4 linked regions of the Homo sapiens genome follow. The protein of the gene in region 3 purifies or fractionates together with the protein of the main gene of each other region. This does not show direct contact. Each region holds a gene or a part of one and is shown on either strand. Other genes may lie near its edges. The genes, in order: TSC22D3, DNA2, NRBP1 and TSC22D1.

Region 1 (8,146 bases), on a different chromosome or scaffold from region 3:
CCAACAGGAACCTGAAATGTCAAATCATTAAATTGAATAGAAGTAAAAACGATGGCTGAAGTATGATGATAGAAACCCAGGGAATTTAATGAAGTAACAAGGGATATGTTCACTTAGGAGAAGGCTGTCTACCCCAGATATTGGAGAAGCCCCATGACCAGCAATAATGGTCTTCTAGTTTGCTAATGAGCATGTCATACTGGGCAAAACCTAAACCGAATTCAGAATCCCCAGTCTCTAAGGTCCCAATTGTCAAGGAAAACAAGAGGGGATCAGTGGCTCATGCCTGTGATCCTGGCACTTTGGGAGGCTGAGGTGGGCAGGTCGCTTAAGCCCAGGAGTTTGAGACCAGCCTGCACAACATGGCAAGATCCCGTCCCTATAAAAAAAAAATACAAAAATTAGCTGGGCATGGTGGTGTGTGCCTGTAGTCCCAGCTACTTGGGAGGCTGAAGTGGGAGGATCGATGGAGCCCAGGAGTTTGAGGCTGCAGTGAGCTGTGATCATGCAACTGCACTCCAGCCTGGGTGACAGAGTGAGACCCTGTCTCAGGAAAAAAATAAATAAATAAAAATAAATAAAAGCAAGAGAATACTTTGTCCTCTTAGAACTATAAGACTGTTACCACAGGACCCTGTTATTCCCAGCCTTAGCGAAGCCTGAGAGCTTGCTGGTTAGCTCCTCACTGGTTTTGAACGCTGAGTGAGTTGCTCTGATCGAAGGAGGCAGGGTGCTCACACAAACCTTTCCTACAATTTGCGCTTCTCCCTCAACCAATACCTATAATGCCACCCCACTACATCTCCACCCTGTAGCATTTCCAGGCTTTGCCTAAAACCAAGAGTCAATAAACTCGTATTAGTGGAGTAGATGACAAAGGAGGTATTCCCTTTCCACAAACCCAAACAACCAGGATGCTCCCGAGGTGTGGCAGAAGGAAACACTTTGATCTCAGGCTTTTAGCCTCACACTTCCCTCACCCAGGTTTGACCCTCCTAGGGCCAGAACCAGAAGAGGCGCCCCCTCTCACACTTTCCTAAAGCCTGGAGTGGCAGTTTCTCTCCCAGTTGAACAAATGCAAATGCTACAAGCGCTCTTTCCAGGTTTTTCTACTACCCCTCCCCCACTGCCACTCTCCAACAGAGACAGGCGGGATCCTTAGGAGCCTGTTAGGGCTTTCGCTTGGCAGGATTTCAACGTCTGTGGGCTGAATACACTTGTAGTAATCTTTCACTAGAAATGAAGATTCCCTCGAAACCTTTCTGCCCGCAGCCTGGTTTATTTTATTTTATTATTTTTAAAAATTCAGCCTGGTTTATTTTAGACAATGAGATAATTTGATGCCTAAAGTGAAATAATAGATGAGAAAGGGCTTCAATGGTGTCGAAAATGCCCGAGGAATACGACTTGTTATAATAACACTAACGAGGTTAGCGGCCCTGCTTGTCTTGCCCAGAATCACTGGGGCTGGGCTGAGCGGGAGGCGATGGTGGATTTGTCTTGGGGCAAGGGAGGCAAACCTGCTCTTAGCATTAAGTGAGAATAGCGCCTGCCTTTCTCGATTGCTTTTAAAATTTCCTATTTGAGCCTGCTTGCATTCTAAATATTTTGTAGGTGCTCAGAATTTCTTATCACTTTGTCTGGGCACATCGCCTGCCTACAGCCTAGAATCTCAGAGCTAAAAGGAACCTTGGAGAGACTAGAGAGGTCAGGCGACTTGCTCAGGCTCATACAAACAGGTGAAGCCATAACTTGTACTACAACCCAGGTCTCCCACAGTGGCGATGTCTTTCTCTTACATAACCTGTGTTGTTGAGCAAGAATAAATCCTCGCTTATACACTCACACACACATGTTGGTGCCCTATCCTGATGGCGCTAAGGACACTAAATCCATGGCTGGGTTTCCTGATGTTGTCTGCCCTGCCTCTAAATTGCCTCAGTTGTTCCCAGAGACTGGTTCTTGCCAGAGTGTCTCAAACTGAAGGACAGCAGCTGCCTTGGGTCTTCCCATTGTGTTTTTTCCCTCCCTTGTCCTCTCCTTGCCTCCCCAGCAGGATTTCTAGAAAGCTTGACCGGTACACCAATACACGCCTGCAACGACATGGATTCATCCGCCCTCCTGCCACACATAGTTCTTGAGGCACTCAAGATGTCCTAGGGTGCTCTCTGGGGTTGCGCTTAGCTTACATTTGAAATTTAACGCTGTGATCCATGGAGGAGGCGAATCCCTCCCATCCAGAGGCTCAAGAAATTCTCACAAGTCTCTGATTTTTAAAAATTTTCCCCTCCCCATCTCCCTCTCCTACCACCAGCAGTTTAATTTGTCTTGACATTTTGCTTGCCCTCACTGTCAGTCAGGGGCACTCAGTAATTTTAAAGCCCTTGTAGTTTCAATCTGATTTTGCACATTTGAGATGGGCTTTTGAGAAGGGTAGAACTTGGAACTCAAGAAGACCCCATGGCAGAATCTCCAAAGGGGCTATGGAAATGTATGCATTTGAGGAGCGGGTACTTTCAGCTACCTCCAAACCATCTGGGGTCTGCCCACCTTCTAGGCCCCAGCGTCCCCATCAGAAAGCCTTTGCAGGCAGCTTTCAGAATAGGGCTTGCACCTGCCAGTCCTCCCCTCAGCTCCGCGGTACTCCAGGCAACCTCAAGGTCCAGTCACTGTAGCCTGAGTCAGACCTCCCCAGTACCCCTCCTGAACTTCCTAGTTGCCCCTTTTGCCAGAGATGAGGGTGCAGCAGAGGCTGGTGGGAGCAAGGACCGAGTTGCCGCCGTGTGCCGAGCCACCCACCTGTGGAAGAAGAGCAGGATGGAGAGCATGGTCTGGTCGATGTTGCGGTTGCAGATGCCCTCGTTGATCAGGTAGCAGGGGTCCCGCAGCACCGGCTCTAGCGAATCCTGCCGCATTATGCTGTTGAGCTTGTCGGTATTGAGGTTCTCAAAGACCAGCTTTTCCTGCAGCTGCCGAAAGTTGCTCACTGTAGGGCTGCCCGGGTTGTTGTTCTCCCCGCTGCTGCCTCGCTGGAGCCCACTCCGATGGGCCAGGTCCAGGCAGCAGTTGCAGCAGTCGAGGCCGACAGGTGAGCGGCAATCGAGCTTGGACTGGGCCATCTTCTCAGGCTCGGAGGTCGCCTGGCCTGCGAGGTCAGGGGCGGCTGGCAGGTGCGCGCCCACCGAGCTGGCCTGAGGGGACTCCAGGGTGCCTGGAAAAGACAAGCTGTGAGGAAAAGAGTTGGAAATTAGCGCCTAAAGCCAGCCACCTTCGGCTCGGCCCCCTTCTGGCTGTACTGCTCCGGGTGCGAATAGAAACAGCTGGACAAACAGCTCCGAGCGGATCCTTCGGGCTCACTTCCTCCTCTTCCTCCTTCTCCTCCCCCTCCTCTTGAGGCCGGGGGCCGCCCCCCTGAGGTGCCACACGCGGCCCCAGCGCAGTCCCAAGTTTCCCAAGTGTGAGCGGGGATTGGGGCGGACCTGTGGAGGCAGGAAGGGCGGGCAGCAGGGCAGAGGGAGAGCCAGGGCGCGCCCTTGCTCCCTCCCTCCTTTGCTCCCTCCCTCCCCGGTTTGCAGGCTCTCAGGCTCTCGGGCTCCCCTGGGCTGTGACGGCTGAGCGGTGGCAGGAGCTGAGAGCGAGTGAGCTAGTTAGCGGTCTGCACGCCCGGGAGTCAGCACTGGGATATGACAGCATGTAAATTACCCTAGAGGGGACGGCGGAGAACGGTCCTCCGCCACTTCTCCGGCTGGCGGGCGGGGGCCCCGAGCGGCTGGATCCTGTCCCTCCACCCCTCGCCCCACCCCGCCCGCACCCTTGTGCCCTGGCATCCACGCTGCCGCTCGCACCCTCGCCCGCGCTCCTGGGAGCCGGCCCGGCTCTCACTCTCTCGGCGAGCCGGACGCTTCGGTTCAGGCTCTTTCAGCGCTCATGGCGCATCCTCCGCCAGAAATACGCACGCAGCCCACCCGGGCTGCCGTGCCCCCTCAGTGGCCCGGTCTCGCGGGGCTCGAGCTCGGCGTGAGGGCAAATGTCTCTAGTCTCACCTCGAATGGGTCCCCCTACAGAAGAGACGACGCCCTCGAGAGCCCCAAGTGTTGTAGCCTTAAACTGCCGCCCTCCAAAGCCCCCCTTTTTCTGGGGGGGGGGCGTGCAAGGAGAGCGGTTGCCTCTGCAGAGAGTCAGAGAGTGCCAGGCACACATTAGGAGTACCCAATAAATGCCGTAAGCAAAACTCAGAGAAGCACGCTCAAACTCTCCTCAGTTTCTGTCTCTTTCTGCTTACTTAACGATATCGTCACCTCCTTTCCCCAGCTCGCTGTGTCCTCTCTTCCCTGAACCCCTCAGAGGCAGTCTCTGTCCCGGTTTCCCTCTGCCCCTTCGCCGTCTCTCCTCAGTCCTCCCCTTCCTTCTCTCTGCTCTTCTGCTTCCACTCATTCCACTATTTCCCTTATTTTTTCTCTTTTCTTTACCCATTTCCTCTACTTTCTCCCCCATTTCCATTCTTTTACCTTTCTTTCCTTATTTCTTTTCTCCTTTTCTCTATTTCCTCATTTCCCCTTTCTCCCCTTTCCTCTTTTCTCTCATTTTTCTCTCCCCTACCCCCGCCATTTCCCTTATTTTCCCCTCATTTCTTACTTCAGCACCCCCTCTTTTTCCTCACTTCACTTACCTTCTCCTATTTCTCCAAATTTGTTGTCCTTCTCCTTTTCTGAACCTTACCTGCCACCTTAGTTGATCTCCGTCTGTCGTTACCCTTTCAATAGATGTAGCGATTGCATGTTCACAGGCCTGAGGGGCGTGCCCCAGCTCTGTAAGATGGAGGGATGTTCTGGGTGGGCAAGTGGTGGGTTTCCAGGGTTTCTCAGGACTCAGAGACTTGGAATACTTTAAATGTGTAGGATTAAATAACGATTAGTGTCTGAAAAAACTAAACTTTTCATGACGTTCAGTTTTCACGTAAAACTGACTTACATTTCAGTCAGTACTCCCCACCCCCGCATCGGCTCCTTCATTCACAAGTCTGGCCTTTGAAATAGAGCAGCATATACTGCCATCTAGTGTCCAAGACGTTGAACGTTCTCTGCCTGCGTCACAGAAGCTCGGAGAGGCACCAGAGGTACCTCCTGGTGGAATCCACAGTGCGTTGGTTCCAAGAGTAGCAGGGAAGAAGTGTAGGAGGCGGAGCTGCTACACTAAGAGAGTTCTGTGGCCAAGCTAATAGGCAGGAACACGCTCCTACACTAAGAGAGCTCCAGCTAATAGGCAGGAACACCAATTAGGGCCAGAGCCGCCCTTTTTTCTAGTGGAGCTTCACTTGGCCTGAGTCCCTGCGGATTGGACTTCCATAGATTTGAAACTTCCTCCGGGTACCACAAGCATCAGGCCTGTGATTAAGAGCAAAGAGCGGCCAACTATTGTAACTCTTATTCCCAAGGCCCTGTGGGTCCTATATGTGCCCTGCAACTTGGGGAAAATGGAGGTGGGGTTGTGGTCTCTATGCTGTAGCAGCCGGAAAGCCAAAAACAAGCCGTACTTCTCGCTCTTGACAGGATCCCAAGGTCAGAGGTGAAAGAGGTGCTGGGGGTCACTGACCATACCTGCAAAACTGAGAGTATGGTCCTTTCGTTCTAACAGACTGCTGAGGAGTCTCTATTTCTCCTCTCAAAAGCAAACCCTTTAGATGTATTAATTTCCCTTTTTCTTCTTCTTCGCTTTTTTTTTTTTTAAATGTTCTTGGGTAAAAGCCAGAGGAGGTAGTAGAATATGAAATTTCATCTGCATTGTGTAGACTTATAGTCTACTAAATTGTTTTGTAATTACAGTGTTTATGTTTTTTCCTCTTGTTTATAATTATTTCATGTTAAACGTTATAGCAAAATATATTAGACCCATAAATGTTTATTTAAGTTGTGTTTTGTGAACTGCTGGGACTTTTGTTTCTATATTTGCCTGAGTCCTTTTATCTTTGTGCATAACCTTGGGATGAGGCCCTGGTAGAAGTATTTCCTTCTTGGCATTTGGCACCATTAAACTCAAGATTCTGTCCCCTTGACATTTCCCTTGTTGTAGTCCTTGCTCTCAAGCAGTATTGTTAATAATTCAGTACAGCTTTCCATACTATATCCAGGTTGATCAAGAGTAAATATAATTGAGATATAAAAAAACTACATAGTTCAGAGATAGAGTTCAGGAGCTGGTATGTATTTGCATACAAGTCCAGCTTGTATTGACATATTGCACACCTCCTCAGGAGAAGGCTGACTGGGCAGGGCCACCTTGGCTCCCTTCTGTGAAGCCTTGCTTTGCTGACATATATTGCGTTGGATGGAGAGACTCCAAGCAGCAAAACGTTTTGCATAAACTAAGAAAGCGGAGGGGGGCCCCCACTTCCAGACAGAGCTGGTAGCTTTCTGGGTGGAGCAGAAAGAGGGTATAAGGGGCATCTCTTTCTTGGATGAACTCATTCAACAGTCACTGTGTGCTTGTCCTGTGTCAGGTATAGTGTAAGTGGGGATTCAGAGGTAAACAAAACAGGACAAACTCCCAAAGACTTCATGGTCTAGCTGCAGAAACAGAGCTGCAGACAGACAAAAACAGTACAAATACTAAGTGGTAATGGAGGCCTGGTGTGTGTAGGGGGAATAGGGGGTGGCATGTCTTGGGTGTGGAGGAGGGGTTAGCTCTGGCAGAAGAGAAGGACAATCTAGGTAGAGAGACTAGAGAGACTAGTGAACAGAGGCTTGGGGCTGAGAACAGTGTGTATGCTGATATCCGGGTGTGGATTACAAAGCAGTTCAGTGTTACTGGAGAATAAAATGTGAGACATGGAAGCTGGTATAGTTATAGAAGTGCTTGTTATTAATGTAATAAATAACAATATATAGAAACAACTCTCATAACCATGGCAAGTTGAAAGTAATGATAATTGTAAACATATTTAAAGATACCTGTAGTAACAGTAATGTGACATAAAATTGTGATTTCTATTGGGGACAAAGTCACAGGTACCACTAACACTATCGTGATCTGTTCTCTGCATTTGTAGTTGAAGGAAATCTAAATTTTAGTTAGAGGTTGGTGAAAACAAAGATGTAATATTTTCCCATCTAAGTTAATTTATCCCCTGAATATTTATTTATTTACTTTTTTAGAACGAGTCTTGCTTTTGTTGCCCAGGCCAGACAATGGTGCGATTTTAACTCACTGCAACCTCCACCTCCCAGGTTCAAGCGATTCTCCTTCCTCAGCCTCCCAAGTAGCTGGGATTACGGGCATGTGCCACCACACAGGGCTAATTTTGTATTTTTAGTAGAGACAGGGTTTCGCCACATTGGCCAAGCTGGTTTGGAACCTCTGACCTCAGGTGATCCACCCGCTTCGGCCTCCTAAAGTGCTGGGATTACAGGCGTGAGCCACCGTGCCCAGCCTATCCCCTGAATTTTTTTTTTTTTTTTTTTTTTTTGAGACAGAGTCTCGCTCTGTCGCCCAGGCTGGAGTGCAGTGGTGCGATCTTGGCTCATGCAAGCTCCACCTCCCGGGTTCACGCCATTCTCCTGCCTCAGCCTCCCGAGTAGCTGGGACTACAGGTGCCTGCTACCACGCCCGGCTAATTTTTTTGTATTTTTAGTAGAGACGAGGTTTCACCATGTTAGCGAGGATGGTCTTGATCTCCTGACCTCGTGATCCGCCCGTCTCGGCCTCCCAAAGTGCTGGGATTACAGGCGTGAGCCACCGCGCCCAGCCTCCCCTGAATTTTTAGGGGTCCCTGTTCTAAGGCCAGGTGCTGTGGCCCATGCCTATAATCCCAGCACTTTGAGAGGCCGGGGTGGGCGGATCCCTTGAGGCCAGGATTTCAAGACCAGCCTGGGCCACACGGCAAAACACTATCTCTACAAAAAGTACAAAAATTCCCTGGGCATGCTAGCGTGCATCTGTAGTCCCAGCTACGCAGGGAGGATCACCTGAGCCCGGGTAGGTTGAGACTGCAGTGAGCCATTATTGCTCCACTGCACTCCAGCCTGGGAGAAGAGTTCTAGACCAACCTCCTTATATATATTAATAACAATATTAGATGAATGAGTCTTTACTATATGCCAAGCACTGTGCTAAAACCTTTATAGTCATTTTCTACTGATTCATCATCACA
Region 2 (7,000 bases), on a different chromosome or scaffold from region 3:
TTCTAATACTAGCCCTTTAATGGATATGTGGTTTGCAGGTATTTTCTCCCACTCTATCGCTTGCTTTTTATCCTCCTCATAGGGTCTTATGCAGAACAAAAGATAGTTTTATTTATTTATTTATTTTATTTTTTTGAGACAGAGTCTTGCTCTGTCGCCCAGGCTGGAGTGCAGTGGCACAATCTCGGCTCACTGCAAGCTCTGCCTCCCGGGTTCACGCCATTCTCCTGCCTCAGCCTCCCAAGTAGCTGGGACCACAGGCGCCCACCACCATGCCCGGCTAATTTTTTGTATTTTTTTAGTAGAGACGGGGTTTCACCGTCTCTTAGACAGGTTGGTCTCCATCTCCTGACCTTGTGATCTGCCTGCCTTGGCCTCCCAAAGTGCTGGGATTACAGGTGTGAGCCACCACGCCCGGCCTATTTATTTATTTTTTGAGACAGACTCTCACTGTGTCACCCAGGCTGGAGTGCAGTGGTGTGATCTCCACTTACTGCAACCTCTGCCTCCCAGGTTCAAGCGATTCTCCTGCCTCAGCCTTTCAAGTAGCTGGGACTACAGGCATGAGCCACCATACCTGGCTAATTTTTGTATTTTTAATAGAGATGAGGTTTTGCTGTGTTGGCCAGGCTGGTCTCAAACTTCTGACCTCAGGTGATCCGCCCACCTCAGTCTCCCAAAGTGCTGGGATTACAGGCGTGAGCCACTGTGCCCGGCTGCAAAAGGTTTTTTTTTTTGAGGAAGTCCGGAATATACATTTTTTCCTTTTATAGATTATACTTTTGGTCTCAAGTCTAAGAACTCTGTCTAGCCCCAGATGCTGAAGGTTTTCTTTTTTGAGACAGAATCTTCCTCTGTCACCTAGGCTGGAGTGCAATGGCCCGATCTTGGCTCTCTGTAACCTCTGCCTCCTAGGTTCAGATGGTTCTCATGCCTCAGCTTCCCAAGTAGCTGGGACTACAGGCATGCACTACCATGCCTGGTTAATTTTTTGTATTTTTATTAGAGACAGGGTTTCACTGTGGTGGCCAGGCTGGTCTTGAACTCCTGGCCTCAAGTGATTCACCCATCTTGCCCTCCCAAAGTGCTGGTATTACAGGTGTGAGACACAGCGCCTGGCCTGGTATTTGTTTTTTGGGTTTTTGGGGTTTTTGTTTTTTTTTTGAATTATGAAACATTTCCCATTTTTATTTATAAAATTATTAATTAAATTTGCAAAAGTAGATTTACAGAGCCTCAGGTAACAAAACAGGAAATGAAATGTTCCAGAGATGGCCGGGCGCGGTGTCTCACGCCTGTAATCCTAGCACTTTGGGAGGCCGAGGCAGGCGGATCACGAGGTCAGGAGATGGAGACCATCCTGGCTAACACGGTGAAACGCTGTCTCTACTAAAAATACAACAAATTAGCCGGGTATGGTGGCAGGTACCTGTAGTCCCAGCTACTTGGGAGGCTGAGGCAGGAGAATGGCGTGAACCGGGGAGGCGGAGCTTGCGGTGAGCCGAGATCGCCGCCACTGTACTCCAGCCTGGGAGACAGAGCGAGACTCCATCTCAAAAAAAAAAAAAGAACACAAACATGGCCGGGCCCAGTGGCTCATGCCTGTAATCCCATCACTTTGGAACACCGAGGCGGGTGGATCACGAGGTCAGGCGTTCGAGACCAGCCTGGCCAACATAGTGAAACCCTGCCTCTACTAAAAATACAAAAAATTAGCTGGGCATGGTGTCAGGCACCTGTAATCCCAGCTACTCGGGAGGCTTAGGCAGGAGAATCGCTTGAACCTGGGAGGCGGAGGTTGCAGTGAGCCGAGATAATGCCACTGCACTCCAGCCTGGGCTACAGAGCAAGACTCTGTCTCAAAAAAAAAAAAAAAAAAAAAAAAGAAATGTTCCAGAGACATTCTGAAAAGTTCCAAAGAAACACACACTAGCCTAAAAATCTCAGTTAAACCATGGTTGCACAACAGGTTATATTTATTCCTGCATTTTCTCAATAAGTTCCTCCTTATATTTGCCTTTCTCTTTTCTGACTTGTCGAGACTTGGCTTTGTGTTCAATAATTTTTTTCCGATCCTTGTTGAGATTTAGCCTGGTGATAACCACCTTGTTTGGGTGAGTACCCACGTGGACGGTTGTGCTGTTGGCCTACTCACGCTGCACCTGCTCAGTGTAGATGACATCTTTCTTTCTGTACACCTGGACTACCTTGCCAATTTGCTGACCTTTGTAGTGTCCTTGAACTACCTGGACCTCGTCGTCCTTGCGGATGGGTGTGGAGCGGACATTGTACTTCTGCCGCAGCTCCTTGGAGAGCGGGGATGACATGATCTTCCGGTGCACGTGCAAGGGGGCATGGAAGTGACGTTTGCGGTTTTTGCTGCGGTCCAAGTTCACGAAGGGATTGAACTTCATGGTGATGCTCCGGCTAGCGGCGGCCTCAGGCCTGTTTTGTTTTTTTTTTTTTTTTTGAGACAGTGACTCACTTTGTCACCCAGGCTGGAGTTCAGTGGCATGATCAAGGCTCACTGCAGCCTCGACCTCCTTGGCTCAAGTGATCCTCCTGCCTCAGCCCTCCAAGTAGGTGGGACTATAGGTATATGCCAGCATACTCAGCTTATTTTTGTATTTTTTGTAGAGACCGGTTTTCGCTGTGTTGCTCGGGCTGGTCTCAAACTCCTGAGCTCCAGCAATCTGCCCACCTTGGCCTCCCAAAGTGTTGGGATTACAGGCGTGAGCCACTGTACCTGGCCCAGTTATCATATTTTTAGTTCTAAAATTTCCATTTTATTCTTTCTATCTTCTATTTCTTGGCTGAGACTTTGTTTTTTGGTTCATATTCAAGCGTGTTCATAATTACTCATTAAATGTTGTTACCGTGGCTGCTTTAAAATCTTGGTCAGATAGTTCTGACCTCTCTGTCATTCTGGTGTTGGCATTTATAGATTGTCATCTGTTTTCATTGAGTTTGAGATTTTCCTGGTTCGTCTTTAATTATTGATTTTTTTATTGAAACATGAGCATATTTTGTTGTTACTGAAAACTTCTGTTTTAGCTGGCTTCCTCTCACACTGCCATGGTAGGGGAAGAGGGGTACCACCTCATTCCTGCCAGGTGGGAGTCGAAGTGTGGGTTCCCCACTCAGCCTTCTTTGACCAAAGTGGGAGGTTCCTCGTTACCGCTGGGCCCACTTGGTTGGGGTGGAAGTCTAGGCTTCTGATGTGGTCTCTACTAACATGTGGGGTTGGTGCCAGTTACCAGTCATCGGGGATGAAAGACCTGACTCCCTACTTGGCTTTCTCTGACACCCGCCTGGTGGGGTGTGGGGCACCTTGTTACAGCCTTGAGAAGGGCAGAGATCTACCCTCCTCCCTGTTTGCTGGTGTCTGTGGTTGTGGGGCTGTACTTTTTTTCCAGTGATATTTGGCTAGAGTAGTTATTGTGTGAAAGTTTTCTGTCTAGCTAGGCTTTCCTTTTCCTGTTCCTTCAGCTGGAGAGAGCAGACTTTGGTTGCAGCTGTTTTTAGCACCCACTGGTGTGCCGTGGCTCCTTCAGTTCCAAATCTGGGATCTATGAGGCAAAAAGAAAGCCCAGGGAATCAACTACTGTGTTGTTTCTTTGGTCCTGAGCTCCCTAGCTGGTCTGCCTTCTCTCCACCTTTCAGAGTCTTCTTTTGTTTTTTTTTTTTATATATAATGCCTAGGGATTTTAGTTGTCGTTTGTGGAAAGAATAAGGAAAAGTACTCCATCTTCCCAGAAGCAAAGTCCTGGTTGACATTAAACAAACAAACAAACAAACAAAAAAAGAACTAACTTATTACCTCTTGAATGTTCCAGATTTCCACTGGGAAATATCCAAATGTGAGCATTGTTCAATAGTGTCTGGAAAGTTTACTTGATTATTTTTAATTTGTAGAAAAAAATTAAAATTTGCATGCTATAAATATTTCAGAATTAAATAATATCGAAGGATTCCTGATGCCATAGAACAAAAACCTTTTGATCTTTTCATTTCAAAAATGAGAGAAACAAAACTACATTTCTTTTACATGTTAAATAACTGATCTGTTTTCCTTGTTTTTAGCTTATAGTTGCAACAACATGTATGGGAATAAACCATCCAATATTTTCCCGTAAAATTTTTGATTTTTGTATTGTGGATGAAGCCTCTCAAATTAGCCAACCAATTTGTCTGGGCCCCCTTTTTTTTTCACGGAGATTTGTGTTAGTGGGGGACCATCAGCAGCTTCCTCCCCTGGTGCTAAACCGTGAAGCAAGGTAGGCAGACACTTAAGTGTTAATTTTAAACTAGATTATTTTCAAGGAACAGATTTAGTACACTGATAAACATGAATCTGATTTATTGACAGAGCTCTTGGCATGAGTGAAAGCTTATTCAAGAGGCTGGAGCAGAATAAGAGTGCTGTTGTACAGTTAACCGTGCAGTACAGAATGAACAGGTATTTGTAACAGTGTTAGCTAGGAGTGGTTTTCATGTTTGTTTCCATCTACCAAAACTAAAGTTATCTTTTGTAATTCCCTTAGTAAAATTATGTCCTTAAGTAATAAGCTGACCTATGAGGGCAAGCTGGAGTGTGGATCAGACAAAGTGGCCAATGCAGTGATAAACCTACGTCACTTTAAAGATGTGAAGCTGGAACTGGAATTTTATGCTGACTATTCTGATAATCCTTGGTTGATGGGAGTATTTGAACCCAACAATCCTGTTTGTTTCCTTAATACAGACAAGGTAAAAAAAAAAATTTCTGTTTAGTTTTTCTCATTTTGTCCTATTATTTAAATTTCTCAGTTTTCATTAGCACATGCCCTAATTAGAGCTTATCAGTTAAAAGGCAAAACTAGGCTGGGCGTGGTGGCTCACACCTGTAATCCCAGCACTTTGCGAGGCCAAGGCGGGCAGATCACAAGGTCAGGAATTCAAGACCAGCTTGGCCAACATGGTGAAACCCTGTCTCTACTAAAAATATAAAAAGTAGCTGGGCATGATGGTGGGTGCCTGTAATCCCAGCTACTCAGGAGGCTGAGGCATGAGAATTGCTTCAGCCCGGGAGGCGGAGGTTACAGTGAGCTGAGATCACACTGCTGCACTCCAGCCTGGGTGACAGAGCAAGACTCCCATCTTGGGGGGAAAAAAAAAGGCAAAACTAATGTACTTCTCATACTTCAACCCAAAATAGTCTTTTCTTTCTTTTTCCTTTCTTTTTCTTTTTTTGAGACGGAGTCTTGCTCTGTTGCCCAAGTGGCATGATCTCGGCTCACTGCAACTTCCTCCTCCCAGATTCAAGCGATTCTCCTGCCTCAGCCACCCAAGTAGCTGGGATTACAGGCACCCACCACCACACCAGACTAATTTTGTATTTTTAGTAGAGACAGGCTTTCACCATGTTGGCCAGGCTGGTCTTGAACTCCTGGCTTCAAATGATCCGCCTGCTTCAGCCTCCCAGAGTGCTGGGATTATAGTGTGAGCCACTGTGCCCGGCCCAAAATAGTCTTTCTTTCTATAGGCCCAGTATTTTTTGGAGGAGGTTTATTCTGGAGGTCAGTAGATATCAAAATTGACTTTTGAAGAAGGAAGGCCACAAAGTGAACTCAGGGGTATAATTCTATTTCCTAGAAAAGGAAATGGCACTGATACTATCAAAGGGCTGGGTTTACAAATGGACAGAGGGTATAATAAATTGATGTCCTTTTAAAGACTTTTTAAAAAACAGACTTTAAACCCGGGCACAGTGGCTCACTCCTGTAATCCCAGTACTTTGGGAGGCCGAGGGGGGTGGATCACTGGGGTCAGGAGTTCGAGACCAGCCTGACCAACATGGCAAAACCCTGTCTCTACTAAAAATGCAAAACTTAACTGGGTGTGGTGGTGCGCCTGTAGTCCCAGCTACCTGGGAGGCTGAGGCAGGAGAATCGCTTGAACCTGGGAGGCGGAGGTTGCGGTGAGCCGAGATCGCGCCACTGCACTCCAACCTGGGTGACAGAGTGAAACTCCATCTCAAAAAAAAAAAAAGCTTTATTTTTTAGAGCAGTTTTAGGTTCATAGCAAAATTATGTGGAAAGTACAGAGGTTTCTCATAACCTCCCTCCCCCACATATGCACATGAAGACCTTTTTACAAACCAGTCATTAAAAAGAAATCTGCACAACGACTTTTTTGTTTTTGTTTTTGTTTTTTAGGATGGAGTCTTGCTCTGTCTCCCAGGCTGGAGTGCAGTGGTGCAATCTCCTGGTGTCTCAGAAAAAAAAAAAAAAAATCAAGATTGCTTAGGGATGATGTAGGAGGAAAGTAGTCTTTGAAGAGATGTATCAGGAGGTAGGACAGCAGTTTTATCTGCTCCATTATTTGTATAAAAGGGGACAAGAAAATGGAAAGAGCACAGATATACGACCCAGATCTAAGTTTGTTTGTTTGATTCTGAGACGGAGTCTCACTCTGACTCCCAGGCTGGAGTGCAATGACACTGTGTCAGCTCACTGCAACCTCCGACTCCCAGATTCAAGCAATTCTCCTTCCTCAGCCTCCTGAGTAGCTAGGATTACAGGCACGCACCACCACGCCCAGCTAATTTTTGTATTTTTAGTAGAGACGGGGTTTCACTGTGTTGGCCAGGCTGGTCTCCAACTCCTGACCTTGTGATCCGCCTGCCTCAGCCTCCCAAAGTGCTGGGATTACAGGCGTGAGCCACCGCGCCCGGCCACCCTAAGTTCAAATAGTAGTGCCACAGTTTATTGTGAGGCCTTGGGAAAGTTACTTATTCTTTTCTGCCTTTGATTCCTGTAAAATGGGGGATAACAAAGTGAAGTATTTGAAGCTCAGTGTGTGATCAGCTTTCGTAGGTATTTTAGCCTCAATCATAGCATGTTTCAGATAGGTGGCCTCTGCGTGGCTTTCTGAAAGTGACTAATATTAATATTCATTTTTGTTGATTCTTTCACCTTCATCTTTTAGACAAAGCTATTTTTCATCTCCAAGTCGGTAG
Region 3 (8,160 bases):
CATGACCCTGAAAATGTTATGCTGTATAATACTTTTTCCTATAAAAGTTGTACCTTGAGTTATTTATACTTGTAAGAAATAACCTAGGCTGGGTGTGGTGGCTCACGCCTGTAATCCCAGCACTTTGGGAGGCTGAGGCGGGCGGATCATGAAGTCAGGAGATTGAAACCATCCTGGCTAACACGGTGAAACCCCATCTCTACTAAAAATACAAAAAATTAGCTGGGTGTGGTGGCACGTGCCCGTAGTCCCAGCTACTCGGGAGGCTGAGGCAGGAGAATCGCTTGAACCTGGGAGGCGGAGGTTGCAGTGAGCCGAGATTGCACCACGGCACTCCAGCCTGGGTGACAGAGTGAGACTCCATCCCCTCTGCCAAAAAATAAATAACCTATATCAGATCTAGTCCCCCAGAGAATGGAAACTTCAGAGCCTTTGAGCAATGTGAATGAAATGAAAGCTGGAAGCTTAAAGTCTTAGCTCTGGCTTGAATTTGTGGCTGCTTGAATGTGGGCATTTATTTTGTTTGTTATTGTATCTCAAGGACTTAGCCCAGTGCTTGGCCCACAATAAATGCTTAATAAAACATCTGTTAAATGAGTGAATGAAAAAAAAAATGTTGTTAACCAATACCCATTTGTCACACTCACATCACAGGAAAGGTGAGGTCATCAGGGATGAAGTCACTAACAACTGCCAGTCATGTGCCCCAAGGGTAGCCTCACCATGGACTAGTGGGCTTGTTCTGTGTAGAGAAGGGATGGATAGTGAATGCCAAGGTTAGTTCTAGCTGGATAAATTAGCCAAGGGTTTCAGCTGGATAAGTTGGCTGAGGGTGCTACAGGTCTAGCCTTAAGGCTGTCTCACTGAAACATTTTGGAGTCTGGAGTCATCTGTTCTGAATAGCGCCCACATAGTTTATATTTTTTTATTTTTTGAGACAGAGTCTCACTCTGTTGCCCAAGCTGGAGTGCAGTGGCACGATCTCAGCTCACTGCAACCTCTGCCTCCCGGGTTCAAGTGATTCTCCTGCCTCAGCCTCCTGAGTAGCTGGGACTACAGGTGCGTGCCACCACACCCAGCTAATTTTTTTATTTTTAGTAGAGACAGGGTTTTGCCATGTTGGTCAGGCTGGTCTCGAACTCCTGACCTCAGGTAATCCACCTACCTCGGCCTCCCAAAGTGTTGGGATTAAAGGCGTGAGCCACTGTGCCCGTCCACACATAGCTTAATTCTTGAGCACAGTAAAAATAGGGTGTACTTGGGGATTCAAAGGGAAGCCTATTGGATGAGTATTTGCCAAGAAGGAATGGAGCACCTGATTTTGCTGGTGATTTGAACCTTACTCTAAGTGGGATTAGACTGCCATAAATCTTGTGTTTGTCATTCCTGGGAGGGTCATCTTCAACTAAGATAGCTCCCCTTTTCTAGACTAGAGTTAGGAGAATAGTTAATGTTTCAGTATTTAGGACTGATTCTGATTTTGGATTTAAAGGAAACAAAGGTGGTGTGTGTTTTCTATTTTTAATTTTTAAAAGTTTTGTGTAGAGACTGGGGTCTTTTTATGTTGTCCAGGCTGGTCTCAAATGCCTGGCCTGTTTTATTTTCTTTTGAATTTGCAGATAAGTATTAGGATTATTAAATCTTTTTTTTTGTTTGTTTGTTTTTTGTTGAGACAGGGTCTCCCTCTGTTGCCTAGCCAATGGCATGATCATAGCTCACTGCAGCCTCAAACTCCTGGGCAATCAAGTGATTCTCCCATCAGCCTCTCGGGTAGCTGGGACTATAGCTGTGTACCACCTTGCCCTGCTAATTTTTAAATTTTTTTGTAAAGATGGGGTCTCACTTTGTTGCCCAGGCTGGTCTCAAACACCTGGCCTCAAATGAACCTCTTGCCTCGGCTTCTCAAAGTGCTGGGATTACAGAGGTGAGCCACTGTGCTCAGCTGGATTACTAAATTTTTTTTTGAGATGGGGTCTTGCTCTGTCACCCAGGCTGGAGTGCAGTGGCGTGATCTCAGCTCACTGCAACCTCCACCTCCCTGGTTCAAAAAAATTCTCCTGCCTTAGTCTCCTGAGTAGCTAGGACTACAGGCACGCGTCACCACACCCAGCTAATTTTGTATTTTTAGTAGAGATGGGGTTTCACCATGTTGATCAGGCTGGTCTTGAACTCCTGACCTCAGGTGATCTGCCCACCTCAGCCTCCCAAAGTGCTGGGATTACAGGCATGAGCCACCACGTCCAGCCTGGATTACTAAATCTTTACAGATGTATCCTGACTTTCTCTGCCTTTTCCCTCTGTATTTGCCCCAACCAGTGCAGGCCTGAGTGTTCCTTCCAGCATGTCGGAGGGGGAGTCCCAGACAGTACTTAGCAGTGGCTCAGACCCAAAGGTAGAATCCTCATCTTCAGCTCCTGGCCTGACATCAGTGTCACCTCCTGTGACCTCCACAACCTCAGCTGCTTCCCCAGAGGAAGAAGAAGAAAGTGAAGATGAGTCTGAGATTTTGGAAGAGTCGCCCTGTGGGCGCTGGCAGAAGAGGCGAGAAGAGGTAAGGTTATGGTACAGTTACTCTTGGGTGAGTGAATTCTGGAAAGGTGAGAACTGGAAGAGCAAAGTCTTAAAAGAGGCCAACCAAACTTCAATAGGTTGGGGGCTAGGAGGAGATGATCATATGGAGTGTTAAAATGGAGGATTTGTGAGATAAGTTTAATTCTCTTTCATATGAATTTCTTCTCAGGTGAATCAACGGAATGTACCAGGTATTGACAGTGCATACCTGGCCATGGATACAGAGGAAGGTGTAGAGGTTGTGTGGAATGAGGTACAGTTCTCTGAACGCAAGAACTACAAGCTGCAGGAGGTAGGTGATGCTGAAAAGGTGAAGCCTGGGGAATGTTGGAACACTGATGTTAGAGAGGAATTGGTGTTGGGAAGCTGCCCGTGAGGAGAGTATGTTGGGGTTAGATCGTTTCTGGGGAGGGATAGGGAATGGCTTCTCAGGATTATTACAGTGATTTGTGACTCTGTTATTCCACTGTCTCCCTTGCTTTCAGGAAAAGGTTCGTGCTGTGTTTGATAATCTGATTCAATTGGAGCATCTTAACATTGTTAAGTTTCACAAATATTGGGCTGACATTAAAGAGAACAAGGCCAGGGTAAGAATTTTTTCCCCATATTTCCTGAACTTATTGCAAAGAGACTAGCTACATTTATTATTGTTCCTTTTACACTCAGAGATTAAAACAAGGTAGTTTTGAAACAGAACTGGAATCAGCTGCAATGGCGATAAGAGTAGGGCTTCAGTTGTCACCTATGCCTTTTGTGTGGCTATAGATTGGGCAGAAAATGAGTGAACTTTTGCTTCTTTCTTCCCATAACTTTCATTGCTTGTTTTCATTGCCCTATTTAGTCTAAGTAAGTAAAGCTAAGAACAAAAGGAGAGAAATTTTAACAAACCTTCAAATTTAAAATATGTTAACAAGGGAAGGGATCATTTCTACTATAAGGCCTTTTAGTAAGTGCTTTGCCTCCCCAGGTCATTTTTATCACAGAATACATGTCATCTGGGAGTCTGAAGCAATTTCTGAAGAAGACCAAAAAGAACCACAAGACGATGAATGAAAAGGTATAGAAGGAGAGCAGACAAAGTTTGAGGCTGGTTTTTGGGGGTGGTTTTAAAAAGGACTCTGTTAATAATGAAGCTGATCAGGAAGGGACGGAAGGAGCTAGTGGGAGAGAGTTAAGAGAGGGAATTACTGCTGACCCTTGGATCCAACTTTGTTCCAGGCATGGAAGCGTTGGTGCACACAAATCCTCTCTGCCCTAAGGTAAGTAGTACCTGGTTAGTTTCTTACCCATATTTCCTGATGTAGTTACTCCAAACAGATTTCAGGGCACTACTCTTCTGTTCTATTCTGCCTCTCCCCACTTTCTTTGAATCATATACTGTCAAGATTAGGGCCCCTACGGGTCTTTTAAAGGGTGCGTCCTAATGCCCTAACCACGACACTTATCTCCTACCTCTTTCTCCTAGTGCTTATCCAGCTATTTAAATCATCAGGCATAATGGAGATTCAGAGTGTGGGGATTATCTTTATGGTGACCAGCAGGAGACCTGGCCCTTGCTCCTCTTAACCCTTGGGTTCCCCCTGCCCTTAATTTCCCAGTGGCCCCTCTAACAGCCCAGTGCCCCCACAGCTACCTGCACTCCTGTGACCCCCCCATCATCCATGGGAACCTGACCTGTGACACCATCTTCATCCAGCACAACGGACTCATCAAGATTGGCTCTGGTGAGGGGAGGGAGAGGTTCTGGGCAGGGGAGCCTCGGGAATTTGGGAACCATGGGGGTAAGATGAAAGGAATGGGGGATAACAGAGCAAAATTCTGAGGTGTGGGCTGGTGAGAAGAGAAAGGACCTTGCTAGGAGTAATTAATAGGAGAGGCCAGTTAATTAGTGGAGAGGGGGTAGGATATATAATCTTACACCTTTTTGAAGGGAAAATTGGGGTTAATACAGAGATACTGATAAGAGGCTGGGAAAGGGCAAGAGATAGGTTTGAGGTTTGATTTGAGTCCTGGGGCCAGACCCTGCCAGAGGAGGTTCCAGGCTGTTCCTGCTGTGAGTGCTTTCGTTTGCTGTGTATTGTATGCAGTGTACAACATTTCTGTGTGCTGTGTCTGTGTGGTATTTGTGTGTCCATTTGTCTGGGGCTTGGCTGCTCCATCGCTCACAACTTTTCTCTGTTTTCCTCCCTCCCGCTTACGGGCTGCTCTGTTCCCAACAGTCTTTCATAGGATTTTTGCTAATGGTGAGAGCTCCCTCTGCCCCACTTGGGGCTCTGTTTGTGCTCCCTCTGCTCCCTTGGCGGCTGCCCAGTGCATGCAGTCGTGGGAGCAAACCCTCTTCCCCTATCTTCCCTGCCTAATTATGCCTGCTTAGCTTCTGCCCTGCCAGCCCTCCGCCTGCTTGCCCCTTCATAACCTGCTTGTTTCCTGTGGATTCTGCCTGGCTGGCCACTTACCTCCTGGATTCATGTTCTCCCTCATCATCAGGCTAGTTCCCAGATCATACTGTGCTCCCAGATTCTCTGTGACTTGTAGTCATTGTTTATGATCTGAGTGAGTCCAAATTGGGCCTGGTCCTGGTTCCTCGTTCAGCTCTGTGGCAGACAGTGTTGAGGAATAAGGGGGTAGAACAGGAGTCTAAAATGTTTTGGTGGATTAAAAGTGGAACAGATTCAAGGGTATTAGCTCAATTCTGAGCTGTTTTGAGTTTCACTCAGCAAAGGTGGGTAAGAAGGAGGCTACCTCCTGAGCTGTATGTTAATACTTCTTATCCTTATTTATCCAAGTTCCTGAGGTCTCCAATTGTCCCAGATTAGGAAGGGCTGCCTGTGTTTTTATGTTATTTGCAGGGTGGATGAAAAAACTAAAACCAAATATTTTCATGTGAGCAGGGATTAGAGGTACCTGGGATTTAGGGAAGGTGAACGCAGTACAAGTGAAAATTTTTCCTTAAACTTCATTGCTTCTAGACCAGCCTGAAGCCCCTGTGTATCTGTTAATTTAGTCTGGTGCTTTTGTTGCTCCTGATTTAGGGACATTAGATGAGAAGCAGTAGGCCTAAGAAAGGGGAGGTAGGTGGCATCCATGTGTGGTCTGTAGTTCAGGACAGGAAAGGGAATATGTTTGTGCCTGTTGAGGGTCATCAGAAAGGAGACTTCAGGAGAGAATTTGGCTTTTGGGGCCTCTCTCTGGAGTGAGACTATTCTTCATTGATGATGGTCAGATTGTGGGTGTCTCCCCTACTCCCAGTGGCTCCTGACACTATCAACAATCATGTGAAGACTTGTCGAGAAGAGCAGAAGAATCTACACTTCTTTGCACCAGAGTATGGAGGTGAGCCTTCCTGCTTTCTCTGCCCTGTCCTCATCCCCCTGCTTTTGCACCTTATAACTTGAGGTACAGAGGCAATATAACTGAAACTTCTAGGCCTTCTCTACCAGCATACAAAATATTTTTCTTTTCTTTTTTTTTTTTCCTAAGGCATTCCTGCCAACCCTAGCCCCCAATCCTCTGATTAACCAAAGCCTTCTCTGTTTTCCCTAGAAGTCACTAATGTGACAACAGCAGTGGACATCTACTCCTTTGGCATGTGTGCACTGGAGGTGAGGGGACTGGAGGGGAGGGGGGAAAGGGGTCAGATGAGAAGATGGAATTGGGAATGGAGGGAAGACAAGTAAGGCGCTGGCTTGGAGGGAGTGATTGTGGGAGCACTGAAGTTCTTAGGTGTCTACTTTTTTTTTTATTCTTCCTCACTGAAGATGGCAGTGCTGGAGATTCAGGGCAATGGAGAGTCCTCATATGTGCCACAGGAAGCCATCAGCAGTGCCATCCAGCTTCTAGAAGACCCATTACAGAGGGTAAGGATCTTCAGGATCACTCCCTCCTCAACTGACCTTCAAATGTCTTCTGGTTTTTCTTCCTTTGTACCCACTGGGTATATGCTCCTAAGAGCTAGGGAACATAACAGAAAGGACACGAAAAATCTATAAACATTTTCTTAGGAGGTGCCTACCATGTTTTTGCATAGAAACACACAGGTAAGGGGGTTAAGATGGATGATGCTGGGGTTAAAAGTTGTGTGTTGGAAGCCGGGCATGGTGGCTCACGCCTGTAATCCCAGCACTTTGGGAGGCCGAGGCGGGCGGATCACGAGGTCAGGGGATCGAGACCATCCTGGCTAACATGGTGAAACCCTGTCTCTACTAAAAATACAAAAAAAATTAGCCAGGCTTGGTGGCGGGAGCCTGTAGTCCCAGCTACTCAGGAGGCTGAGGCAGGAGAATGGCATGAACCCGGGAGGCAAAGCTTGCAGTGAGCTGAGATCGCGCCACTGCACTCCAGCCTGGGCGACACAGGTAGACTCCGTCTCAGAAAAAAAGAAAAAAAAAAAAGTTGTGTGTTGGCTGGGTGCAGTGGCTCACACCTGTAATCCCAGCACTTTGAGAGGCTGAGGCGGGTGGATCACTTGAGGTCAGGAGTTTGAGACCAGCCTGGCCAACATGGTGAAACCCTGTCTCTACTAAAAATACAAAAATTAGCTGGGCATGGTGGTGTGTGCCTGTAGTCTCACCTACTCGGGAGGCTGAGGCAAGCTTGAACCCGGGAGGCGGAGATTGCAGTGAGCTGAGATTGGGCCACTGCACTCCAGCTGGGGCAAGAGAGCGAGACTGTCTCAAAAAAAAAAAAAAAGTATGTTAATTTGAATGTGTCTACATGGAGGTAAATTAATTTGATGGTTACTTCAGGCCATTGCTGTATACTCTCAGACAGCCATTTTTATATTTTTAAGCACATCAGTCAATTTAAATTAAACCAGTTGTTTGGGATTTTATATTTATACAGTTTTAGTTAGGGACGGTGGCCTGAAATAATGAGCTAAGATTTAAAAGACATAAGGTTATGAATCAGTTGATAGACTATAGTAAGCAGAGCCTGGGCAGGAAGGTCCAAACAAGAACAGTTTGTAACTCATTAGATAAGTATAGTAGGGAACAGGAGAGAAAAGAAGACTAGTGGGAAGTCAGGAGGATAGTGTGGAGTAAGTTTCTACTTCAACATTGAGGTGGAGTATTCAAGTGAAAGATTAGGTATGTGACCTTGTTAGCCTTCAAGGTTAAAAGCAGGAAAGCAGGTTAATTGTCATGGGACATGCAGGAGGTAGAAAAGGAGGCGGTGGTGGAACATGGTGGCTCATACTTTTAATCCCAGCACTTTTGGAGGCTGAGGTGGGAGGATCACTTGAGCTCAGGAGTTCGAGACTAGCCTGGGCAACGTGGTAAAACCCTATCTCTATGAAAAAATAAAAATTATCTGGGTATGGTGGCACATGCCTGTGGTCCCAGCTACTCTGGAAGCTGAAGTGGGAGGATTGCTTGAGCCCAGGAGGTTGAGGCAGCAGTGAGCTGTGATTGTGCCACTGTACTCCAGCCTGGTTGGCACAGCAAGACCCTGTCTCAGAAAAAAGAAAGAAAGAAAATAAGGCAGAATCGTTAGAGGAATCCTGGGAAATTCGGTGAATTCAGTGATTGTGGGCAAAGGAAATTGTGATACTAGGCTTGTGAAATAAAAAAATGGTGAATATTGATCACA
Region 4 (8,160 bases), on a different chromosome or scaffold from region 3:
GTCTCTTCTCTTACCTGCTGAACAACTCAATGTGTCAATTTCCTTTTACTTCATGCAGTCAAATCACGCCCCTACTTTTCCAATCATTCCACTGCCCTTCAGGATTTTACTAGTCAAATTGTTAACTTTACCTGGAAACAGTTGTGGAAATGACTGCCATTATGTTAACAGGGTCATATGAAAAACACTTGTTTATCAACATTTATATGCTTTATTGAAAGTTGACAAGTGCAACAGTTAAATACAGTGACACCTTACAATTGTGTAGAGAACATGCACAGAAACATATGCATATAACTACTATACAGGTGATATGCAGAAACCCCTACTGGGAAATCCATTTCATTAGTTAGAACTGAGCATTTTTCAAAGTATTCAACCAGCTCAATTGAAAGACTTCAGTGAACAAGGATTTACTTCAGCGTATTCAGCAGCTAGATTTCAGATTACACAAAGTGAGTAACTGTGCCAAATTCTTAAAATTTCTTTAGGTGTGGTTTTTGTCATGTAGCAGTTTTTATGTAGATCTATATATAAAAGTCCACACCTCCTCAGACAGCCAATGAAACAACTAAATTTCAATCTGTACAACCTAAATAGTAGTTACAGTCCTCTATTGTACAAAATAGTTACACTACATACACAAATATACAATAAGCAAAACAACCTTCATGGTAAGATAGCCTAGGTCCCAGCTACCTGTCACCATTTTGTCACTCTCATAGTTTTGTGTCATCCATTGTTTGAGAAGAAAGAGGCACAGTACTATTGTTTTTTATGAATTTTGGTGACAGTTGTCAAATTTGTACAGTGAACTCTGTTCCCCCTCATTTTAGTCTTTTTACCCTCCTTTCAAGTTCCTCCTGGGGGGAGGAGAGGAGAGAGGCGAGTCCAGTGAGGAGCTCCATCGCTTCACAACCCCATGTAGGACACTAAGCGCAAGCAGGAGAGAGAACCCTTGGAAGTGAGGGGTAGGGAGCCGGAAGGGATGGAAAGGCACACAGCTCCTGAGCATGAATTAAACCATTTCTCAGATATCTGCCAAGCTGCATGAGGTCCCGGTATATCCATGCTAATTCTCGGATTAACCTTTAATTCACCCAACTAAGAAATTTCTCCAAGCCATAAGCATATGAGTGTTTAATACTGGAAAAGAGATAATGGCATATGTCAGTCTCACGTCTCTTTCGCAGCGAGCAATGAAATGGGTGACTGTGGAGGCAGATTCTCCCTAGCACATCTTCTCCGTCTGTTCAGTTCACACGCAGCAGCCAGTTCTGCGGGGGCATAGGCAGCTATGCGGTTGGTCCTGAGCCCTGCGATGCTGGCTGGGCGGGGGGCTGTGTGGTGCCCTGTGGCTGGGTGGTGGCAGGGGGGGAGCCAGTCTGCAGCTGGGCCTGAAACTGGGCAAGCTGCTCAGGACTGGCCAGTGTCTTCAGCAGATTGTTCTCCTGCTCCAGCTGGGAATTTTTCTCTATTAGTTCTTTGATTTGCTCTTTGAGGACCTCCACTTCTTCTCTGACCGCATACATCAAATGGCTTTTCACTAGATCCTGGAAAGAAGACAGAAAAGGTTTAACTCATTATTTGGTATTTTCTGGACTCTTTTGAGTTTCCAAGACATTATTTTACATGGATCTCCCTAACTATTTACATATTCCACCTTTAAAGTTGGTTCAATGACACTTGGGGAAATCTGAATACAAACATGACTGTACAATACTTGAGTTTAACGTATAAATGATCAAGCTTTGTAAAAGTCTGTGCTTCTCTGCAGACGTTGGCCAGAAACGCCCAAGTAAGGCTTCCTGAGACTGGGCCAGAGCCGGGCGCTGGGTCCCCGACTGAGACCAGCAGCGGGGACGTCCAAGCCACAGCGCGCCCACCGCGTCCCCGCCCCCAGGCCCCGCCCCGCGCTCGCCCGGAGCCGCCTCCTTCAGCACCGGCTGCAGCCAGTTCCTACCGAACATGTTGCCGCATTTTCTTCCCTCCACCCCGCCCCCCTCTTTTCGTGATTAAGCTGACATCACAGAAACCTGGGCAGACGTCGCAGCCAATGGGAGCCCGAGTTATTTATAGCTCCGAATTAAAGGTTCAGAGTTTGCCTAGCAACAGTGGGCAGAGAATCCCGTGAGAAGAGCCACAGGCGCTGCTCCAATAACAAAGAACGGCCAAGGCGGAAATAAAAAATAGGAGAAATCCAGGCGCAGGCTAAGAAAACAAAACTTTTTCTCTGATTCTTCTTCATTGTGAAGGAGCCCGCGCCACCGGGGACCCGTTTGTGCACCGTCTAGAAGACCCTTATCCAGGATCCCGACTTCTGGGGCCCTCCCCACCTCCCGGCTCCCTAGTAAAATATTAGGATTCCTAGTAAAGCCACATCGCTAAAGGTGTGCTCACGACCAGCCGAAGGAGATAGTTGGCCAGCGCTTCCCTAATAAATCCCCAGCAAAAAGGGTCACCGTGAGAAAATCCCGTCGTGTGAAACCAGTCCGGGGAAGAAGACCATTTAATACCCGCAGGGCCCCTTTCTCCCTCCACGGCTGCCGTGGTAGGTGGCTCCACGCTGGCCGAATGGAGACAGCGCCGGCATTTCTACGCGCATCAAGAGCAATCATCATCATCTGAACTTAGGGATGCACTGGTTCCACAAAACATCTTATTTTTGTGCTGTGCCCACATTTAGTATAAATGATTTTTCATCAGTACATACCATAGCTTGCTCGATTTTGTTGTCAATAGCTACCACACTTGCACCAGAGGAGCTGAAAAAGAGGAGGGAAAAAGGTCATCGATAAATGGAATTTATCTTAAGCTTCCAAGATAAAAAGGATCTCCCAATTTTGTGATATTGCTAGCATCATATTTTGAATGTTATTTAACACTATGTAATGTATCACCCTCCAGAAAATGCCAGCCCCTCTCTTACTAACGAATATCCAGGCATCTCCCTATTTTAGTAAGCCACAAAGGACTAAATTACATAATGTGGGGAAAGCCTGTTCTCTGGCCAGACTTGCAAAAATAAGGTTTTTTAACATTTCGAAAAACAACATCCATGTCACCATAATCTCTCAGCAATGGACAAAGGAATTCGCCTGGCTATCTTTCACCTGTATTATTATAAGTATCCCACGAATAAATTTAAAGAAACTATCTTAGCCGACATTTACCTATTATCAAGTCTCACAGAAGCGTTTTCAGTCCCCAGCAAGGATGACAAGAAAGAAATTGAAAAATGTCTCAGTTGGTAAACTCCTAGATCCATCGCCACTGGTCTACACCATTGGGATTTCATGCAATTGCAGCCAAAAACACCCTCGTGGAAAAAAAGAGGGAACACCAGCAGCCTTGTATAAGCTAGATAAAATCTTCTGGCTTTCCGCAGCCCAGGGAGAAACAGAAAACGGCAGCCCTAATTTAAAGAAACCCAGCTTCTAGGGCTTGATGATCCCAGGCAGATGCGGATCCCAGTGCCGTGAAGAGGCGCTTCCCAGATCCGCAGCCGGGCTCCACTCAGCTCTAGACCAGGACTCCCAGTCTTAGTGCAAAATATATGCAGGAAAGAGCTGCGCCGATTGGCCGGCACGCCACTGGGACCGCCCCCTACTCCCTTCCAGGTCCTCCCGCTTCCCTGCTTCCCCGCCTCCCCCCACCCCCACCTCCGCCCCCATTCTCCAGATCCCGCTCGTGGGGTGGGCTGGCCTGGCGCGGGCCGTGCTCAGAGGGAGTGGGGTGCTGGGTTCGGAGGTTTCCACGGCGGCCTCAAAACACTGGGCCATTGCTTCGGCAGAAAATGTGAAGGGTCCCTGAAAAATACTATGGGGGCCCCCACACGTGCTTACGTTTAAGGGAGTCAGACCCCGGTCCCCGGAGCTGTGTCCCGCGGCTGCTTAACGGCGAAAGCTTCCTATTTGTAACCCGAACCGTCTGAGCTACTGGGCATGCCCAGTCCCACCACTGTAAGACTTCGAGTGTCTTGATTTCAATTATCTAGTTCTTACCGGCAGCGGTACTGGGAGGATTTTATAGACGGTTTTATTTTTAAAGATAATAATCACCCTGCAATCATGTATTTTTTTAATTTTAGAGGAAAAAAAATCACATTTGCTCTTTGAGAGATACTACCTTTTGTTTTATAGAAACAAAACAAAAAACATTATATATTCTTTGCTAGGCATGAGGGAAAGACTCCAGATAAAATCCAGGATCTTCCCAAAAAGCCCGTAGAGCCACAAACCTTAAAATCACATCTCCCTATTAGCATCTTCTCCCTAGTAACTAAATATGCCTTCTTCTATTTAGACCCAAAAAAGTCAATCCACAGGTTGAATTCCACATAAATCTATTTTTAGTTAAGTCCCTAAGGCACGTTTTTGCAAGCTGAGTGACAATTCCTCTAAGACTCAATCCCTCAATCCTATGAGCCTTCTTACATCAGAGGGATTGAAATATTATAAAGTATGTATTCAAAGCATACAAATCCTTGAAGTTAGTCTCTGCCCATTTGCAGTGTCCAGAACCAGAAAAGGGAGGATATAATGGTGGTTAAAAATAGTTAAGCAGCCAATAGATGCTGTAGGCTCACCTCTGTTTCACCCTCTTGGCCACACTGACCAAATAATTCCCTTCTCCAAACCAAAATCGAGAGATGTGGGTATAAAATAGCTTAACCCTTTCAAAATTTCCTATATTAATTTAAAATACTTGCAGGGATGCATCAATTAAGGCTACAATTTAATATACTAGAAATCTAAGCCCTGAAGTTTGCTAAATTATAATACAACATAAACAGTTTCCAAGTCAATACATGCGAGAAAGAAAACTTAACCTCTACAATACTGCCCTCTAATGGCATAATATAAAAACCAAAAAATCTACAAAGTACTTGGGGAGACCTCTCTAATCTGTAGATAAAATTGTGTCATCACAAATAATTCCAACATAAAATCTGACCGTAGAACATATATATGTAATACACGCACATGCACAAACACACACAGTCTTCTCTCCAAAATAAGCATCTTTCCTCAAGCAGCATCCTTTTCTAAAATTGCCATCAGATCCATTTAGACAGTTTTTAAGTTGACTCAATGCTGGTAGTGGGGGTAGGTAGATTTGGTTTTCAGAAACTGTCCAAAGTTATTAGGAACCAGACCAGATCGGTAAGCACAGTAAATGATGAAGACCACAATTCTCTTTTGGGTTAAAAACCAAAGTGTGACCAACTATAAAGTGATGAGATTCCCTTTTTACTGAAAGGTTCATATTCTCCAAATTTTAAGGCTTGGCTTTTGAATAACAATAATTGTTAACATATTTATAATTTATAAAAATTACATATATTAACTCATATGATGCTTTAAAAAAAAAGATACCCATTTCCAACAAAAGGAGACTAAGTAGAAGCTTAGAAATCGTAATTATTTGGGAAGCTGGCATGTGGTCCCTATGTCTATGAATGCTAACCAGAATATTATTTACTACATGATAGTCTCTATATTTTGAAAGTTAAAGTTATACCTAAAACTATTTGTATGCTAAATTCCATTTACATGTTTTAACTGAATGCCAACTTCATGAAAAAAGGGTATTAAAGCACCATTTAAGCTATAAAAAGAGCTTTAAAAAACAAAACTCTAAGGTCATATAAAAAAATTTTTAAATTCCAAGCTGCAGTTTTAAAAAATTACTAAATTAACTGAATTTATTCATGCCGTTCTTCAACATAAACAGAAAGCTGTTTTTATTTCAATCATTTTAACTGATCATCCATTGTATCAAGCAAGAGAAGCAAATATAAGCAACCATAGTCTATTTAACCCATTTTCCTATTGAAGGACATTACAGTTATTGTTAATACTTGGATATTTTAAATAAAATTGCAAGGAACATCCTTCTACATACATCCTTGAACATGTATGTGTGTGTGCACACTTCTGGAGAATTTGTTGAGCCAAAGGATAGGCAACTAAAAAAATGATTAGAAATCTAATTTTCTCATATATTTCACATAAATATGCTAGATTCCTTTAAAACTAGACTTTTGTATGAAAACTGAGAAGACATAATTTGAAAAAGAAGGCAAAGGAAATGGAAAGCTCCATGGAGGGAAAACCCTTGGATCAGAAATGTCCGTGGCACAAATGGCTAGAATTACATTCAAAGGCTCTTCTAATTGCAAGACAAACGATCCATATGTCTGGTGCCTCATCAGAGCTCACTGAGACTTGCTGACAGGGCAGAGAAAAATACTACAAGGCTTCCAGGAGAGATCCTTAAAGCCATGGACCATATAAGTCTATTTCAGGCACTGAGCAAAGATCAGGAGGTATCACCTCAGTGGGAACTCATACACATTAAACAGCCTGGACAATTGAGATTGAGGTATTTTCTAGTGTTGTCTGCCTAAAAGCCTTTTTACACAGATTCCAATTCAACTGCTACTGCATATTGGTAGCAAGCATGACAGGATAGGAAAAGAGGAACAGGCCTGAGTGTTTCTGTTTCCTGTAACATGTGCTTTTCTTCCAAACTTAATCTGACTTGGCCAACACCGGTACAGTTGGAGATTCAGCACTGAAATAGAGTAACCTCTTTCTCCCCCTATCCAAACTCCTTGCAAATCTAAAACAACTGCCAGGAAAGAAGCGAAGGCACATTACCCTGTACCTGACCAAATCACTGCTGTCTAAGGACTCCCACGTCACCTCCATTTTTCTAGTTTACTCTCACTAGGCATGGGAATATACTTACCAGGTTTAACAAATGAAACTACAGGACTATCAGTTAAATGTGAATGGCAGAAAAACAACAAATAGTGTTTTAGTGTTGGGTCCCACACACTGTCAAAACAAGAAGAAATGCCAAAGAAATGGCTGTTAAATTCAACCACAATTTACATTTCCTTATCTCCACAGAAAGGCTGGTTGGAAAAAGCTTCCAAAAGAGTAGAACAGTGGCCGGGCGCGAGCGCGATGGCTCATGCCTGTAATCCCAGCACTTTGAGAGGGTGAGATGGGCGGATCACTTGAGGTCAGGAGTTCAAGACCAGCCTTGCCAACATGGTAAAACCCCGTCTCCACTTTAAAAAAAAACAAAAACAAATAAATTAGCTGGGCGTGGTGGCACATGTCTATAATCCCAGCTACTGGGGAGGCTGACGAAGAATTGCTTGAACCCAGGAGGCAGAGGTTGCAGTGAGCTGAGATCGCATCATTGCACTCCAGCCTAGGCAACAGGGCAAGGCTCTGTCTCAAAAAAAAAAAAAAAAAAAAAAAGAATCGGAAAAGAAAAAGGATAAATCTAGGAGGTCCAACATCAAAATAGGATGCATTTCTATTTTGGAGAGAGAACAGAAGGAAGAGAATTATCAAATAATTTAAGAATTGTTCCAGAACTGAAGGACACAAGTCTCCAGTTAAATGAGATGACCAAATGCCCACCACAAGAAATGAAAAAGCCCTCCACCAAAGCACACCACCCTGAAACCTTAATCACTAGGCATAGAGAGAAAATACTAAAAGCTTCCAAATGGAAGAAACAAGTTACAAACACAGGGACTAGGAACAGAACCACTTTGCTGGCAGTCAGAAAAAGATGAAGAAAATGTCTTTAAAATTCTGAGAGAAAAGAGTTTTTTTATCCAGAATTCTTTACTTGGCCAAATCATCATTTGAGTGTAAAGGTAGAATTAAAACATTTTTAGATATTTCAGACACCAAAATGGAGGAGCAAATCAAGAAAAAAGGCAGGCATGGGAAATAGGAACCAGGAACTCAGATACTGGAGGAAAGGAAGGGAATCAGCAGGCTGGAGTGCAGGGAGATCTCAGGGGGACTGCTGCTGGACAAGCCCAAGCTGCAGCTGGTCTGTACCTGGTCTGCAATGGTAAGGGAAGATGGAGAACTCCAGGAGGGAGAGCTTCCGTGCTAATGAACACACAGATTATCTAACACATCTAAGCATTTGCAGGGCACAGGTGAGCTACTGATAGGTGTATGATAGATCTAATGGAACAATTAGATAAGCTCAAAGGCAGTTTTACTGAAAACAGAGCAAGGAAGAAAACACGGAATGCTCATAAAATATACATGACCCATATTATTTTTTCATTTTTTTGTGGATTTACCTTTTAAAAGTTAACTTTATTGAGAAGGT

Evidence for each region.
Region 1: the proteins of NRBP1 (region 3) and TSC22D3 purify together in Homo sapiens (affinity purification with mass spectrometry; 5 studies listed by BioGRID and IntAct, with this or other methods). This does not show direct contact.
Region 2: the proteins of NRBP1 (region 3) and DNA2 purify together in Homo sapiens (affinity purification with mass spectrometry; 2 studies listed by BioGRID and IntAct, with this or other methods). This does not show direct contact.
Region 4: the proteins of NRBP1 (region 3) and TSC22D1 purify together in Homo sapiens (affinity purification with mass spectrometry; 6 studies listed by BioGRID and IntAct, with this or other methods). This does not show direct contact.

The regions. Positions count from the first base shown.
Region 1 is NC_000023.11:107,772,301-107,780,446, forward strand, and holds the start of TSC22D3 (TSC22 domain family protein 3), read right to left. Parts: upstream 3,488-8,146; 5' UTR 3,120-3,487; coding exon 2,800-3,119; intron 1-2,799. UniProt on the Homo sapiens protein: Protects T-cells from IL2 deprivation-induced apoptosis through the inhibition of FOXO3A transcriptional activity that leads to the down-regulation of the pro-apoptotic factor BCL2L11.
Region 2 is NC_000010.11:68,419,974-68,426,973, reverse strand, and holds part of DNA2 (DNA replication ATP-dependent helicase/nuclease DNA2), read left to right. Parts: intron 1-4,083; coding exon 4,084-4,277; intron 4,278-4,369; coding exon 4,370-4,459; intron 4,460-4,544; coding exon 4,545-4,749; intron 4,750-7,000. UniProt on the Homo sapiens protein: Key enzyme involved in DNA replication and DNA repair in nucleus and mitochondrion.
Region 3 is NC_000002.12:27,430,933-27,439,092, forward strand, and holds part of NRBP1 (nuclear receptor-binding protein), read left to right. Parts: intron 1-2,316; exon of another isoform or gene 2,317-2,321; 5' UTR 2,322-2,341; coding exon 2,342-2,551; intron 2,552-2,740; coding exon 2,741-2,863; intron 2,864-3,056; coding exon 3,057-3,158; intron 3,159-3,538; coding exon 3,539-3,628; intron 3,629-3,789; coding exon 3,790-3,830; intron 3,831-4,200; coding exon 4,201-4,295; intron 4,296-4,790; coding exon of another isoform or gene 4,791-4,814; intron 4,815-5,820; coding exon 5,821-5,904; intron 5,905-6,114; coding exon 6,115-6,173; intron 6,174-6,329; coding exon 6,330-6,428; intron 6,429-8,160. UniProt on the Homo sapiens protein: Required for embryonic development. Plays a role in intestinal epithelial cell fate and proliferation, thereby involved in the architectural development of the intestine potentially via the regulation of Wnt-responsive genes.
Region 4 is NC_000013.11:44,433,331-44,441,490, forward strand, and holds part of TSC22D1 (TSC22 domain family protein 1), read right to left. Parts: intron 3,963-8,160; exon of another isoform or gene 3,846-3,962; intron 3,529-3,845; exon of another isoform or gene 3,299-3,528; coding exon of another isoform or gene 3,174-3,298; intron 2,766-3,173; coding exon 2,714-2,765; intron 1,554-2,713; coding exon 1,296-1,553; 3' UTR 685-1,295; coding exon of another isoform or gene 635-684; 3' UTR 1-634. UniProt on the Homo sapiens protein: Transcriptional repressor. Acts on the C-type natriuretic peptide (CNP) promoter. Acts to promote CASP3-mediated apoptosis.